Homo sapiens: one gene and its partner. The protein of the gene in region 1 purifies or fractionates together with the protein of each later gene. This does not show direct contact. Each region holds a gene or a part of one and is shown on either strand. Other genes may lie near its edges. The genes, in order: CST6 and CTSC.

Evidence for each region.
Region 2: the proteins of CST6 (region 1) and CTSC purify together in Homo sapiens (co-immunoprecipitation; 2 studies listed by BioGRID and IntAct, with this or other methods). This does not show direct contact.

The regions. Positions count from the first base shown.
Region 1 is NC_000011.10:66,007,291-66,015,251, forward strand, and holds CST6 (cystatin-M precursor), read left to right. Parts: upstream 1-4,717; 5' UTR 4,718-4,754; coding exon 4,755-4,994; intron 4,995-5,535; coding exon 5,536-5,661; intron 5,662-6,026; coding exon 6,027-6,110; 3' UTR 6,111-6,215; downstream 6,216-7,961.
Region 2 is NC_000011.10:88,299,131-88,307,838, reverse strand, and holds part of CTSC (dipeptidyl peptidase 1 isoform a preproprotein), read left to right. Parts: intron 1-7,193; coding exon 7,194-7,309; intron 7,310-8,708. UniProt on the Homo sapiens protein: Thiol protease. Has dipeptidylpeptidase activity. Active against a broad range of dipeptide substrates composed of both polar and hydrophobic amino acids. Proline cannot occupy the P1 position and arginine cannot occupy the P2 position of the substrate.

The DNA of each region.
Region 1 (7,961 bases):
GCAGCCTGCTGAGCATGGAAGGCTCCCAGCAGGTGCTTGTGACTGTTGATCCCTTTCCAGGCTGGCCCCTCCCTGTGGGGACCAGGGCTCTTTCCTGTCACTCCCAACCTTGACTGGTGGCAGCCTTGAAGAGCCAGCCAGGCCCGATTCTGGGGCTTTGCTCCCCATGCGATCTGGAGCAAGTTGCTTCACTCCCCTGAGCTACAGCCTCCTCTGCCAGCTGATAACAGGGTTGTGAAGATTCAACCAGTGAATCAGCAGCGCTTAGGAGCGCTCCTCCCCAGAGGGGAGCTTTAATCCCTGTTGGATTACAGGTTTCCTTGCTGAAAGATCTCCTTTCCAGGATATGGGGCTACAGAGCCCTGGGGGGAGGGCAATATCCTCTGCCCAACTGAAGGTTCAAGGAAGAGGGTTCTGGGGGAAGCATCGAAGCCTTGGAGAGCCTGATCCCAGAGGGAAGGAGATGTCAAGAACCTGCCCTGGTCATCTCCACCCATCAGGCCAGGGGCAAGAGAGGGGTGCTGTGGACAACCTGGGGTGGGATGTCTGGGCCACTGCAAAACTGGAGGCTCTGCCCTGTGGCCAGTACATTTGACCGACCTCAAGCTCACGCTTGGCGCAAACCTCCTGGAAGCCAGAGTGGTCCAGACGGGATGGAGTCAGGCCCTGGGAAAGTCTGCTCAGGGACACCCCATCTGCAAGAAACAACCCCTACACCATGCACAGCAGACCTCAAACCCCTGTGGAGCAGCCCAGGACTCATGCACCGGGACCCACCACTAACCTTTCCCCTTTGATCTCCCATTTCCTCCTTGTAGGAAGAGATAATAGTCATTGTCTGTGCAGAGCTGCTATGGGAATGAAAGAACATATATTGAATCCCTGGCGCAAGGCCTGGCACACAGCAAGAGTTCTTACCATTGTTAATCCTCCCCACCTTTTCTTACCAAGATACCACTTCTAGCTGTGTGACCTTAGACAAGTGTCCCGACCTCTCTGATTAACTTCTTCATCTGCAAAGTGAGGATAATGTGTACTCCCTCAGGGTGCTTGTGAGAATCAGTGGGTGAAAAGTGCTCAGAAATTGCTAGGTTGTACTGCAAAAAAAGTCCTTTGCATCAGCACAAAGCAGAGGCAGGTGGAGTGGGTGCCCTTGGTGAGTGGCAGACAGGCCTTGGCTAGTTTTTGAGAGAGCTGTTGGAGGTACCTGTGGCCATGGCTAAGCTCCAAGTGATGACACAGCAGGCCCAGGGGAGCTGCCTCTCCCACCTCGCCCCTGTGGCACGATCCTGGTACTCTTCCTCTACCCCTCCCAGGCTTTCAGCTCAGAGTCCTGGCCAGGCGTCATCCTCCTGATCAACTCAAGCTCGGCCAGCACTTCCACAAACTGGAGTCTGTCCCTTTAAGCCAGACACCTGAGGCCGCCAGGAACTTGTGACGGTTCCTTGGAATCCCAGGAAGATGGCAGAGTTGGTTTTCCACAGCTGGGCTGAGGAAGTGAGGTGGGTAGCAGGCTGGCAGCTGCCCTGGGCAGTGAGTGACCGCTGTGGTCTAGGTCTCTGTGTGGGAAATCACTTCCTTTTGTGGTCCTGGGATTCTAAGGCCCAGAATCAGGAAGGGAGGGTGACACGCTGGATGCCTACATACAATATCCATCACAGTGACAGTTGCCAGCTGCTCTTTACGTACTGTGACCTAGCACCTCTTCCAAGCCCCAGTGAAGCCCCTGGAGGCTCTAAGCACTGCAAGATCTTAGTGCCCCAGGGACAATAAGCCCCGCCCCCCAGCAACATGGAATTACAAATACAAACTACACTGAACTCTAAAATGCAGACAAATAATTCCAAGGCCTGCCTGTAATCCCAGCATTTTGGGAAGCTGAGGTGGGAGGATCTCGTGATCTCTTGAGGCCAGGCATTCGAGACCCACCTGGCACTACTGTGAGACCCCATCTCTACAAAAAAATATAAGAATTAGCCAGGTGTGGAAAAAAATTAACCAGGCATGGGGGCATGCGCCTGTGGTCCCAGCTACTTGGGAGGCTGAGATGGGAGGATAGCTTGAAGCCAGGAAGTCGAGTTATAGTGAGCTATGATAGCGCCACTGCACTCTAGCCTGGCTGACAGAGCGCTGTCACAAAAAAAAAAAAAAATTCAACAAAATCCAGACTTTTCTTGCGTTGACTACTTCAACACTGCTTTTCATCTGTTCCTTTTTTTTTTTGAGACAGAGTCTTGCTCTGTCACCCAGGTGGAGTGCAGTGGCACCATCACTGCTCACTGCAGCCTCGACCTCCCAGACTCTAGTAATCCTCCCACCTCAGCCTCCCGAGTAGCTGGGACCACAGGCGTGCACCACCATGCACAGCTAATTTATTTTAGATTTTTTGGTAGAGACGGCTCACTATGTTGCCCAGGCTGGTCTCAAACTCCTGGCCTCAAGTGATCCTCCTGCTTCCGACTCCCAAAGTCCTGGGATTACAGGTGTGAGCTACCGTGTGATTAATAGATCACCACCTATTAATAATAATCAATTAATTATTGGAGTCTTTTTTTTTTGAGATAGAGTCTTGCTCTGTCACCCAGGCTGGAGTGCAGTGGGTGCCGTCTCAGCTCACTGCAACCTCTGCCTCCCAGGTTCAAGTGATTCACCCACCTCAGCCTCCCAAGTAGCTGAGACTACAGGTGTGCACCACCACACCCAGCTAATTTTTGTATTTTTAGTAGAGATGGGGTGTTGGGAGCCGAAAGGGCCAAAGGGATTGTGACCAACTCAGCATTCCACTGAAGGCTATATGATCAAACAGCCACCTGTTTATCACGAATGCAGGATGTGGGCAAACTCCCACTGCCCTGCCACCAAAAGGTTTGCTGAGGGCCTTACTCCTTGGCACTGGGGTCCCTGAAGTTATCTACTGAGAAAATTAGCACCTATTGTTCAAAGGATGCAGTCTCACAAGCCTGCTGTGAACCAAAGTGCTGACCGACAATTACCTGACATACCCGACAATCACCCTCCCCCTTTCTCGCTATCTCTTTTGCCTACTACATACAGAGGGCTGTGTAAAGCTCAGGGCCCTTGTCCACTAGAGGCAAGGTGCCCCCTGACCCCTTCTTCCAAATATACTCTTTTGTCTCTTGTCTTTTATTCCCACGTTTGCCCGGCTTTGTTCAGTCCCCCTAGGTCCGTGCGGGCTATGATGGGGTTTCACCATGTTGGCCAGGCTGGTCTCGAACTCCTGGCCTCAAGTGATCTGCCCACCTCGGCCTCCCAAAGTGCTGGGATTACAGGCGTGAGCCACCACACCTGGCAATTATTGGAGTCTTTAAAAACACAGTCATGGGCCTTGTTTGCTGGTACCTCCAGCACATGCTCACTGTATCCACGGGACAGCCAGATTCGAAACATCAATATCAGAACAAACTTAGGAGATAAGGTGTCTTTCAGACGAGGGCACGGAGGCTCTGTGTGGGAGGTTGAGGGACTTGCCCAAAGCCATGCCGTCAGTAAGATGGCAGAGCTGACATGACTGACACCCCCTCCTTCTGGGCAGTTTGTGTCCTGTGGGCTCAGTCTGGTTTAAGACCACAGATTTGACTTAGACTGTCAGCACACACAAGCCAGTGTCACCATTTATTTCCTGCCGGTGTCTTTGGGCAAATCCATTTTCCCTTCTCTGTAAAGTGGAAACTATTTTTTTTCTTTTTTCTTTTTTTTTTTTGTGAGACAGAGTCTCTCTCTGTCACCCAGGCTAGAGCGCAGTGGTGCCATTTTGGCTCACTGCAACCTCTGCCTCCCAGGTTCAAGCAATTCCCCTGCCTCAGCCTTCTGAGTAGCTGGGAATTCAGGTGTGTGCCACCACGCCTGGCTAATTTTTGTATTTTTGGTAGAGACGGGGTTTCACCATGTTGGCCAGGCTGGTCTTGAACTCCTGACCTCAAGTGATCTGCCTGCCTCGGCCTCCCAAAGTGCTGGGATTACAAGTGTGAGCCCTCATGCCCGGCCTTCTTTTTTTTTTTTTTTTTTTTTTTTTTTTTTGAGTCAGCGTCTAGCTCTGTCGCCCAGGCTGGAATGCTGCAGTGGTGAGATCACGATTCACTGACTTGAACTCCTTGGCTCAAGTGGTCCTCCCACCTTGGCCTCTCAAAGTGCTGGAATTACAAGCATGCCTAGGTGCCTGGCCAGGTAGAAACATTAGTCACTCGCGCTCCAGGAAGGTTGTCAGGCAGCGCTGAGCAGTAATGTGTCCTACTCACCTGCTGTTTATCCAGCACCAGACCTCTTCTAAGAACTTTACCTGTTTCAGCTCACTGAATCCTCACAACACCCATTGTACAGAAGAGGAAACTGAGGCAGCGAGTGGTTAAGTGACTTCTCCGAGGTTACACAGCTAGGAAATGGTGGCAACAGTAAGAGCCCACGAAGAGCTGCGGTTGGTAGTTCATTCTGGACAGCCCTCCCGTGAACCGTCCCTGTACTGGCACTTGTTGCTGGGGACTGTCGCTGTCCTCTCCCTCCCCGGGCCAGGTGTGTCCTGGAGGGCAGGGAAGCGTCTTGGCACGCGGGTGCGCGCCGCCCCCTCGGCCTCCTGGGCTCCCTGAACCTCGCAGGACCCCGGCAACTTCGAGCCCCGCCCCAGCTCCAGGCCGCGGGGGCGCATCGCGGGCGTCGGGCGGGGCGGCCCAGCGGGTAAAAGCTGCGCGGCCGCAAGCTCGGCACTCACGGCTCTGAGGGCTCCGACGGCACTGACGGCCATGGCGCGTTCGAACCTCCCGCTGGCGCTGGGCCTGGCCCTGGTCGCATTCTGCCTCCTGGCGCTGCCACGCGACGCCCGGGCCCGGCCGCAGGAGCGCATGGTCGGAGAACTCCGGGACCTGTCGCCCGACGACCCGCAGGTGCAGAAGGCGGCGCAGGCGGCCGTGGCCAGCTACAACATGGGCAGCAACAGCATCTACTACTTCCGAGACACGCACATCATCAAGGCGCAGAGCCAGGTGCGGCGGGCGGGGTGCTGGGAGGGGACACCCGGCCCAGATGGGGGAGGCCACAGGCGCTGCCCCAGCGTGCATGAAGGGGGCCTAAAAGCGCAATCGGGATATTTTCATGCAATATTTTAAAAATCGAATTAATGCTAAAACTCCACGATGGACAACCATCTAAATTTCAAGGAAAGACATAATTAAACCCTGTATTGCACTACCTGCCTTCCTGGCTTGCCTGGTCCTAGTCTCTGCCCTGATGGGGTGGATCGGGGAGGAGGGAAGGCAGGTGGGGACAGTGGGCAGCTCCCTAGATGGGGCATGTCTGATGTCTGCCAAGGCTGCTGGTGGGGCTCAGCCTCCAGGCCTCTCCACCCTCCATCCCCACCAGAACTCCCCCCCCCACCCCCCCCCACCCCCCCCCACCCCGTCTGAATCATCCCCTCTCCCTCTCTCCCCACCTGAGTGCCTGGGGGCAACAGGAGAATATATCAAGAGGTGAGAAGTGAGGATCAAGGGTCAAGACCCCTGACCTGCCCCTACCCTATGCCCCCAGCTGGTGGCCGGCATCAAGTACTTCCTGACGATGGAGATGGGGAGCACAGACTGCCGCAAGACCAGGGTCACTGGAGACCACGTCGACCTCACCACTTGCCCCCTGGCAGCAGGGGCGCAGCAGGAGGTAACAGCTGGGCTCCTCCAGCCCCAGCCCTCCCCAGAGCCTCAGGCACTCAGGTTGTCCATCCTGAACTGGTTTGGCTGGACACGTAGATGTCTAGATGTCTGGCTGAACCTGTCGTCCTTCTGGATGAGTCAGCCTCTGGGCCAAGATGGGGTGCAGAAAGGAAGCTGGGGCTTCCCTCGGGAATGGGGAAGTTGGCTACCAAGATCTGGAGTCTAGCCCCAGACATGCGGCTTGACATCCGTTGGGTCAGTGATTGTCCCTCTCTTGGCCTGGAGCAGCCTGGCAGGCAGAGGGCTGGCTGTTGGGAGGAGACAGGTCGAGGCTGGGCTCACCCCTCCTTCTCCCCCATATTCCCTCCACAGAAGCTGCGCTGTGACTTTGAGGTCCTTGTGGTTCCCTGGCAGAACTCCTCTCAGCTCCTAAAGCACAACTGTGTGCAGATGTGATAAGTCCCCGAGGGCGAAGGCCATTGGGTTTGGGGCCATGGTGGAGGGCACTTCAGGTCCGTGGGCCGTATCTGTCACAATAAATGGCCAGTGCTGCTTCTTGCATTGGTTTCTTCCAAGTGCTTCGCTTCTGCCCCCATCCCCCACTCCCACTTCTGGCAGCTCCCAGCTCCCCAGCCCAAGCTGAGAGGTCACCCTGCCACCTGCAGCAGAGCTGCTGCTGTCCCAGCCCAGACAGTGCTGAAGGTGCAGGGCTGAGCCTCCAAATGTGGAGCCCCCAAACACCCCAGCATCACAGGCATAGAGGAACAAACCTTAGAGCCCCCACACACAGCCAGAGACTCCCAATATTCTCAGAGGTCAGGGGTGGCGGCAGACTCACAGAGGAGGGGCGATGGCCTGAGATAAGAACAGGGCCGGCTGCCTGGGAGCACTCTGAGGAGGAGTCTGTGCTGTGCTCCCACTCAGCCCCAGGAGGAGCTCATGGGTGGCATGGGGGGCTTCAATCAGGCAGTGTCCTCACCCAGGACACTGAGCTCCCAGCCTATAAAGATTCCTCCACCTGCATGTGGCCCAACGATGGCAGAGTCCCTGCAGGCCAAGAGACCATGAAGGCTAGGACAGTGCCTCTCAGTCCACACTGTGGGCTCCACGCCACAAGGACGCCTCTCTTGCCTTGCCCTGGGCAAGACGCCTGAAAGGGGCTAGACTAGGAGCCGCAGAGGGACAGAGATTGTCTAGCGCCCACAGGAGGGGTGAGGGGACAGATTCAATGTAATGTCATTTAAAGAAAACAGCATTGCAGCCGGCCTCACACCTGTAATCCCAGCACTTTGGTAGGCTGAGGTGGATGGATCACCTGAGGTCAGGGGTTCAAGACCAGCCTGGTGGCCGGGCGCGGTGACTCACGCCTGTAATCCCAGCACTTTGGGAGGCCGAGGCGGGCAGATCACGAGGTCAGCAGATCGAGACCATCCTGGGTAACACGGTGAAACCCCGTCTCTACTAAAAATACAAAAAATTAGCTGGGTGTAGTGGCGGGCGCCTGTAGTCCCAGCTACTCGGGAGGCTGAGGCAGGAGAATGGCGTGAACCCGGGAGGTGGAGCTTGCAGTGAGCCGAGATGGCGCCACTGCACTCCAGCCTGGGCGCCAGAGCCAGACTCCATCTCAAAAAAAAAAAAAAAAAAAAAAAAACCAGCCTGGCCAACATGGTGAAATCCCATCTCAACCAAGAATACAAAAATTATCTGGGTGTGGTGGCAGGTGCCTGTAATCTCAGCTACTCAGGAAGCTGAGGTAGGAGAATCGCTTGAATCCAGGAGGCAGAGGTTGCAGTGAGCCGAGATTGCGCCACTGCACTCCAGTCTGGGAGACAGAGCGAGACTCCATCTCAAAAAAATTAAAAATAAAAAAAGAAGAAGAAAACAGCATTGCAACATTTGCACATCTGAATTTGTGGCTGCAATTCATACCCCCCCATACATATACACACGCACACACCCAAAGCACAACACACCAGACATACACACACAGACACCCAGAGCACACACTCAGATGCTGGCAGATATCACATGCATACCCAGAGAAACACAGCCTAGCAACTCATGAGCACAGAAGCAACACACCCTAGAGAAACAACCTGGAGATGTACACACAAAACTCAAACACAACCCAAGGACCCACATGCCACACCCAGAGGTTCCTCAGATGCACAAGCACACACCCACACTTGGGATATGGGCCTTGGGGGTGCTAGGTATAGGCACCATCAGGCCCAGGCAGGCAGCACTGCAGTGGCTGCGGAGAGCATCCCACGGTCCTTCCTTTCTGACAAGGCCTCACACCCTGCT
Region 2 (8,708 bases), about 22 Mb from region 1:
CGAGACTGTGTTACTGCCCACTACCTAATGGATACATTTAGCCTGGTATCCAAACCCATCTAATTATGACCATAACTATATTTATCACCTTGCTCTGCTTTCAAACGATATGACACACAATGAATGAAAACTTTCATTTTTCATCTTCATTTGTGCTGTTCCCTTTGCCTCAAATAGCCCTCAACTTGCCTACAGTAACTGTAAAATTTGCCACCTAAAAAAAAATCTCAAAATCCTCTCTATGCTTTGATGTCCAGCAAAAAAAAAAAAAAAAAAAAAAAAGTTATCAGTATAGCTCTATTACTCTCAACCAGAGGTGGCATTTTTCATCTTTACCCATAAGCCCCATGGTATATTTCTTAGTTTGGGAAATTATATCATAATACTTTGAATCTGTCTAGTCAGAAATTTAGATAATTTAAAAAAAAATTATTTTTCTGAAAGTATAGCTGGATCTAGCTTAGGATCTACATCTATCTAATATAGTTCCTTAACATTTGTTAAATGGCCACGGATAAGTCCTGTAATGCCATACTTTGCTTTAGGATCATGTGACTAAGGGGTAAGGAATTGGAAAGCAATGGGGAGCTAGCAGAATTTGAAAAATTATATAGGTAGGTTATTTTTCCTTAATACATTGAAATAGCCTCAAATTCTCAGAGAATACAATGTTTAATCCTCTAATATCTGTAGAGTTCATGGCTCAAATTTGTATTATTTGAATAAACTACTAATAGATTAATAATTACTCAACTAAAACACTTTGAAATGTGAGAGTTCCCTTATCTCCCTCGCAGGCATATGACAGAGGTGTGGCTTCTCACACCTTTGGTTGCCCTTGCCCTACCACCCAAACCCCTAGGGGGAGCATGCAGAGGGGCAGGTGCAGAGGCCATGGGGGGTGCTTTTGGGCTCTGGCCCCACAGCAGTGTCTAGGAGTGGATGTTGGAGACTCCTGAAGCCCAAGTGGGCATGTGTTACAGTGTGCTCTTTCAGCTTAGCCGTCTGCAGATGGCTTGTGTTAATCAGGTCATTAGACCCCATGCCTTATTGCAAGGGCAGGGGTCCAATGTGACAGCCTAAGTTCTTGCTCAGTGTACCAGAAGAATTGGATCACACGTGGGCTGGAAGGATGAGCACAAGGTTTTATTGAGTGGTGGAGGTGGCTCTCCGCGAGACGACTCTCAGCCAGAGAAGGAGGATGGAGGGGAAAGGTGTTCTTCCCCTGGAGTCCACTTGTTCCTGTTCTCCTCTGGGTTCAAATACCTCTTCCCTCCTTTTCTGCTGTGCTGTCCCACCACTCTCCACAGCTCTGTGCCGCTCTGTTCCTCTGCTCCTCTGGATGTTCAGCTCCTTGTATCTGTGCCTGCTAAGATTTTGGGTTTATATGGGGGAAGGATGGGGGGCATGGCGGGCCAAAAGGCACCTTTTTTGGTGTGAAAACAGAAATGCCTGTCTTCTCTTAGGGCCTTAGGTCTTCAGGCTTGAGGGTGGGGCCTTTGCTGAGGGACCACCCTCTTCTACCCAGTATTTCCCTGTCTCCTGTCCATATCAACATTACTAACTTTTTCATCTGCAGACTAATAATGCTAAGGTGTGGCATTTTTCAACTGTGAGACTATGTGAAGGTTTTTCCTGTCCAACTGATGGCATCCTCCCATAATTCTACCCCTTTCTTAAAAGAATCTTTTGCAGTATTTCTCCAAGTTTATTCTAGAGAATTTCTTGTCTGTGAAATGCTCTAGTTAATCAAAATTGGAAAACGGAGCATATCATATCCCCTTCTCAAATTCACCAAAGTGAAGTCCTAATGTGTCTTAATGTATCTGCATGAGACAGGAAGCTGAGATCTATTCAACAACAAAAATCCAAACAAGCATCAAGAGGAGGAGTGTTAGCACTTGAGCCTAGGGAGACTGTGGCTCCTGCCTGAAAGATGGGAGCCTCAGTCACAGCTGCTTTACCAAGTGTCATATGCTATGTTTCTGAGGACTCCTGCTAAAGCTCCCTTCTCCCTCCAGCCAACCACTTTTGTTTTAGACAAGGGCTGGGTTTATGAAGGACTGTTTTCATGACTAAAGCTTTATAGAAGGTTTAAGATAAGGAGATGGAATTGAGTGAAGTAGGAAATATGAAAGCAGATATTATAATCTGGCTTCCTGATTTTTCACTAGCATTTTTGTTTATAAATTAGTTCTGTTCTAAGAATCCAATGACGTAATAGAAACTCTCAAAGATTCTTAACTTGAGATATAGGGAGTCTTTGAAACTGCTGAAATTACAGACAGCATTTATTGTTTATGAGCATTTCTGAATCTAGAGCTTTCACTAGATTTGTAAAGAATGTGGGCCAAAAGATTAAGAGCCAATCCTGTATCTTGTACTCAAAATGTTTGTAATTCTCACCTTTTTATCCCCCAGACTCCTCTTGCTCTCTCTTCATTTTCACAGTGTTACTGGAAAGGGGTCCTGATCCAGACCCCAAGAGAGGGCTCTTGGATCTTGTGCAAGAAAGAATTTAGGGCGAGTCCTCAATGCAAAGTGAAAGCAAGTTTATTAAGAAAGTAAAGGAATAAAAGAATGGCTACTCCATAGACAGAGCAGCCCTGAGGGCAGCTGGTTGTCCATTTTTATGGTTATTTCTTGATTGTATGCTAAACAAGGGATGGATTATTCATGCCTCCCCTTTTTAGACCATAGAGGGTAACTTCCTGACATTGTCATGGCATTCTTTTTTTTTTTTGACAGAGTCTCACTGTGTTGTCCAGGCTGGAGTGCGGTAAAGCAATCTTGGCTCACTGCAACCTCTGCCTCCTGGGTTTAAATGATTCTCCTGCCTCAGCCTCCCAAGTAGCTGGGATTACAGGCATGACCCACCATGCCCAGCCAATTTTTGTATTTTTAGTTGAAACAGGGTTTTGCCATGTTGGCCAGGCTGGTCTTGAACTCCTGACTTCAGGTGATCTGCCTACCTTGGCCTCCCAAAGTGCTGCAATTACAGATGTGAGCCACCAAACCTGGCCTGTCATGGCATTCTTAAACTGTCATGGTGCTGGTGGGAGTGTAGCAGTGAGGAAGACCAGAGGTCACTCTCATCGCCATCTTGGTTTTGGTGGGTTTTAGCTGGCTTCTTTACTGCAGCCTGTCTGTTCTATCAGCAAGGTCTTTATGACCTGAATCTTGTGCTGACCTCCTATCTCATTCTATGACTTAGAATGCCTTAACTGTCTGGGAATGCAGCCCAGTAGGTCTCAGCCTCATCTTACCCAGCTCCTATTCAAGATGGAGTTGCTCTGGGTCAAACACCTTTGACAACATCATTAAGCCTCAGTTCTCACACTGTTTTTGTTTTGTTTGTGTGTGCAATGATGGGCAAATCTCTGCCTTATAGGATGGTAGAAAAAAGGAACTTAATATTGTAATGACTGTTTTGTGCCAGATAATTGCTTTAAACTGTATCAGCATCTTATTTAGTCCTGTTAATGATATGAATGTTATCTTCATAACAGCTGCCATTTTATTAAGGACTTATCAGAGAAAAACACTGTTCTAAGCACTTGTTACCCATTATTACATTGAATTTTCATAACAACCCTTTGAGGTAAGCATGATTATACCCACTTTAATAGAAGTGAACTGTAGTTTTGTAATGTTAGGTTCCTTGCCAAATGTTACACAGATAGTAAGTGATAAAATCATATGCCCTGAAATTACATTATGCTGCCAAACTTAAATTTCTTTTTTATCCTTTATATTAGTATATTCTTAGGTTTAAACAAGACAACTAGTTAACACATACTAGATTTTGTCCACAGTTCCTGGCTCATAACTCCCATAGCCCTTGTCACTATCTTTTAACGTTGGGGCACATTAGGCCTCAGAAGTAGGCCTCAGAAAACAGAGTCTCTCTCTCTCTCTCTCTCTGATCTTCTTCCGCCCTCCTCTCACCTGCCCAGGGCAGCACTCTAATCTTCTCCTGCCTTTCTGATCTTGGGTCATAAGACCTTCATTTCCAAAGATGTCCTGTGTCATACCCTAAAGGAAGGAACACTGAACAGAGAGAGGCTCAGAAGAATCTGGACAGGCCTTGCTGTGTTTACATCATTCCCTTTATGTCCAGTCACATCTCTACATGGTTGTCAGTTGTGCCTATTTGATGAAGTCCCCATATAAGGCTCACAAGGACAGGGTGCAGAGAGCTTCCAGATAGCTGAACAAGTGGAAGTTCCTGGAGGGTGGCGTGTTCAGGGAGGGCATGGAAGCTGTGTGCCCCTTCCCCCATACCTTGCCCTACTCATTTCTTCATCTGTTTCATTTGTAGTATCTTTTATAATAAACCACTAAACATTAGTTAGTATTTCTCTGAGTTCTGTGAGTCACTCTAGCAAATTAATTGAACCCAAGGAGGGTGTCATAGGATCCCCACATTATAGCTGGTTGGCCAGAAGCACAGGTAAACAACCTAGGGCTTTCAATTGGCATGAGAAGTAGGGGGCAGTTTTGTGGGACGGAGCCCTCAGCCTGTGAGATCTGATGCCATCTCTAAGTACACAGTGTCAAAACTGGATTGGAGGACACCCAGCTAGTATTCACTGTGAAATTGGTTGCTTGCTTGATTTGTGGGGAAAAACCCACATGCATTTGATCACAGAAGTCTTTTGTGTTGACAGTTGATAGTGTTCAGTGAGAGAATTAAAAAAAAATTGAGTTTCTTCTTCAACATACTCTCTCAATGTGAAACCACAGAAACTATTTCCATTCAAAGATGGAAATGGTTTGTTTGCATCTTAGTTTTTATTTATACATCTTAGAAGAAATGTCCAAGCTTTGTTTTTTCTCTCACCCTATATATAAAATTACCTATGAGGCACAGATTTTTATGATCCTTGATTATATAGACTTTGTCCAAATTGTGTGTTTTATAGCATTACTGTAACTTGTTATAGTAATCTTTGTGTATATTATGTCTCTTAACATTGTCTTCCATATTGTTAATGACCATCTCATATTTATCTCTGTATCATGTATATCTTCAACCAATGTGACTGGCTTAGGAGAAAAAATTAGTGAACAATTAACTAGTGTTTGTGTAATCTATACAATTGTCAAGGTTACAATTGCTATTTTTGAAGAAATCGTTGTTGTTTTTCTCTTTGTTTCATCTCAGTTCCATTTTGTCATGTATTCTTTTTTTTTTTTTTTTTTTTTTTTTTGAGGCGGAGTCTTGCTCTGTCACCCGGGCTGGAGTGCAGTGGTGCAATCTCGGCTCACTGCAAGCTCCACCTCCTGGGTTCATGCCATTCTCCTGCCTCAGCCTCCCGAGTAGCTGGGACTACAGGCACCCGCCACCACGCCCAGCTAATTTTTTTTTGTATTTTTAGTAGGGACGGGGTTTCACTGTGTTAGCCAGGATGGTCTCAATCTCCTGACCTCGTGATCCGCCCGCCTCGGCCTCCCAATGCTGGGATTACAGGCGTGAGCCACCGCGCCTGGCCCCTTGTCATGTATTCTTAACCTGTGTTATATCTAAGAGAAGCTGTGAGAGACGGGACCATTTGTGGATAGGTGCAGAGGGCATGAAGTAGCCCAGAAAGAATCTTTGCCATTGACTAAATTTTAGCCTAGTAAAAAACATCTGGTAACCACTGAAAAACTAGAACAGTGTGATATGACAATGCCCAGTTGAATAAGAAATTCAAATAGTTTATAGTAACAAAAAATAATTTTTACCACATTGTGACTAGTGCCCTAAAAACAAATTTGAAGGAGCAGAGAGAGAGAGGAAGTGAGTTTTCGCTGGGGGCTGGTGAGTGGAGGCTACTTTATGAGCAGTTTTGAAAATTACAAGTTAGGGAAAAACTCTTAGGGGAGTTTTAAGTGGTGAGCAACAGGCACTTGAGGTTACAGGAGCAGCAGCATAAAGATATAGAACAGAGAGGCCATTTGGCAGTCTTGGGGAAACTCCAAGAAGTCGAATGTGTCTAAAGCTGTGGTTCTCTCTCTGTGTGTGTGTGTGTGTGTGTGTGTGCGCGCGTGTGTTTGTGTGTGTGTGCATGTGTATGTATGTGTGAAATCGCTAATACAGAGAAGCTGTTAGAACAATTTTCTCACTTCCCAAAAATGTCCGTTCATTCATGGGCCTAGGCAACTCTCCTTTGTGTGTCTTACAGCCCAACACTGTCATATAAGGTGTGGTTCTATAATGAAACAGTTTTATCTGTTGTTTACGGAGCTAGTCAGCCTGTGTTATGCTTGTTACTGGTTGAGGGTGTCCAGGTTCTTGGCTTCTTGAACAAAGAATTGGACAAAACTCACAAATGAGGCAAGGAAAGAATGAAGCAACAAAAGCGGAGATTTATTGAAAATGAAAGCACACTCCACAGGATGGGAGTGGGCCTAAGTAAATGATTCAAGGCCCTGGTTACAGAATTTTCTGGGGTTTCAATACCGTCTAGAGGTTTCCCATTGGTTACCTGGTGTATGCCTTATGTAAATGAAGAGGGTGGAGTTAAGTTACAAAGTCATTTACTCAGTATAGGCCTTGTGTTAATGGAGAGGGTGTTACTCCTGGGGGTTGTGGCCCATGTAAACGGAGAGGATGAAGTGAAGTGACAAAGCCCTTCGCATTCCTGCCATTGCTGAAGTGTTTCCACTTTATTTAGTTCTAGGAAGTCAGTGTGAATTGGCCTTATGTTCCCTGCCTCCAGAACCTGTTCTCCTGCCTCACATAGACCCTTTTTTCCCTTTGCCAACTTCACTTCTTTTACAGCCACCTCACTACCAATGTGTCTGTCTCCTAAGTCAAACATCAGTGATTCCTCTGTTTTCTCTAAACCCTTCTTATGTCTTCTACTTCTCATCTCTTTCTTGGTCAAAAATCTTTCAAAAATGAGTAAGAATGCAGCTATTCAGGCAAACTAAAAATAACATCACAGTGATATACAAAACCAGTGTCATTTCACAAAGGAAAATTATCAATACTAGATCCTGAAAAAGAAACAGCGAATGAAAGCCATTTACACAACTCCATTGTGTAATTGACACATTGAATCACTCATAAAACAGGTGCTCTGGGTCTGAATCTAGATCCTAGCTAGTCTGGTAGCTGAAATCATAGAATTATAGTAGAGTTTAGGAAATCATCCTCAAAGGAAAGATTATATGTTGATATCAAATGTATATTTCCTTTCTAGGCCCAAACCTGCACCACTGACTGCTGAAATACAGCAAAAGATTTTGCATTTGCCAACATCTTGGGACTGGAGAAATGTTCATGGTATCAATTTTGTCAGTCCTGTTCGAAACCAAGGTAAAAAAATAAGCCTAAGTTTTTTGTTAATTTGTTTGGAACTATTTATTGAACAGTTGCTCTGTGTGATGGATTTCGGGGATACCTAGATGGAATGGGCATGATCCCCTTTTTACAGAAATAGAAAATAGGTGGCCTATGAATTATTCTTTCCTTTTATATCCATGACAAACTTTAGTAAAAAATTTTCTTTTCTACTGAGCTTAGCATTTATTCAGTACTCTTCTCAATATATTTTCCAGGTAGCTAGTGACAATCAGAGTGATATGTAAGACAAACTCATTTGTCCTCCTAGTAGGAAAGATTCTAGTAGAAGCAAAGAATTGTGTACCATTCTGCAAGTGGTTTGTTGGAATCTTTCTTTGATACCTGTTCCTGTATTCCCCCACCCCCATTAATTTAGTCATTAATTACTACATGAACCCGTAAAATAAATCCTTAAATTATTTTCCTGGTAGATTTTTTGAGCTGTGTAAGGACCTTTCAATTCACTTTACATTAGAATACGATATGTGATGGTAAGTATTAACCCAGCTTCCTGAGTGATGGCGTGAGGGCGGAACCCAGGTTCATGAAAAGTATTCCTATTATTGAATTTTACCAGTTATTTTCAGAAGTTTGATACAATGTGAGTTGATTTCATAACATGTCCTCTAACTGCACTTGATAGCAAATTATCTTGTTATCCTGAGTTGTAGCCAACAATGACTTGGAGAATCTATGCAATACTCAGTTTTATTACTTCTAAGCTCATTTTGAAGATAATACTACCCATGGCTGATTTGTTACTATAAAATAGGTTTAGTATTTGCTGTCTGGAAACATTCTGATTAGTGTCTCCTGGGAGGATTATAAATTTATAGTACCCAAAGATAAACTGTTGTTTCCCTTTCCTAAACTTTTAGTGATAATCAGTCTCTGCCGTGTCTCATTTTCATCACTTGCCCTCCAAGCTCCCATCTCACTGAATTCTTGCAGTGTTCTGAATGTTGAGAGCCCCAAGTGGGTCTTATAACAGCCAGTCAGCAACATTTCTGTTTTTCATCTGACACCAAGGGTCTCGTCTCTTTGCTTTTCTACCAGTTATTCTGGGCTCTTCAGCTCTAAAGAAAGTATAGGTCCTGAAATCTTTCCCTACCTTCTCAATTTCCTGGGGAGGGCTTCTTTGGAAAGTGGGATTGGAAATAAGATAAATTTGAAGATAATTGAGAAATGAATGGAAAGTGAAATTGAAGGGTCCATGTTAAGAGATTGCAAGTTATGCTATCACCAAATAGATTTTTTGTGCCTGAGAGGATTAATTCATAGTGCATATTATGTGTTGACTTTATCATTGAGGTCCTGGCACATGATAGCATTGGCATGATATAATTTGAGCTACTGATACTATAGTGTTGCT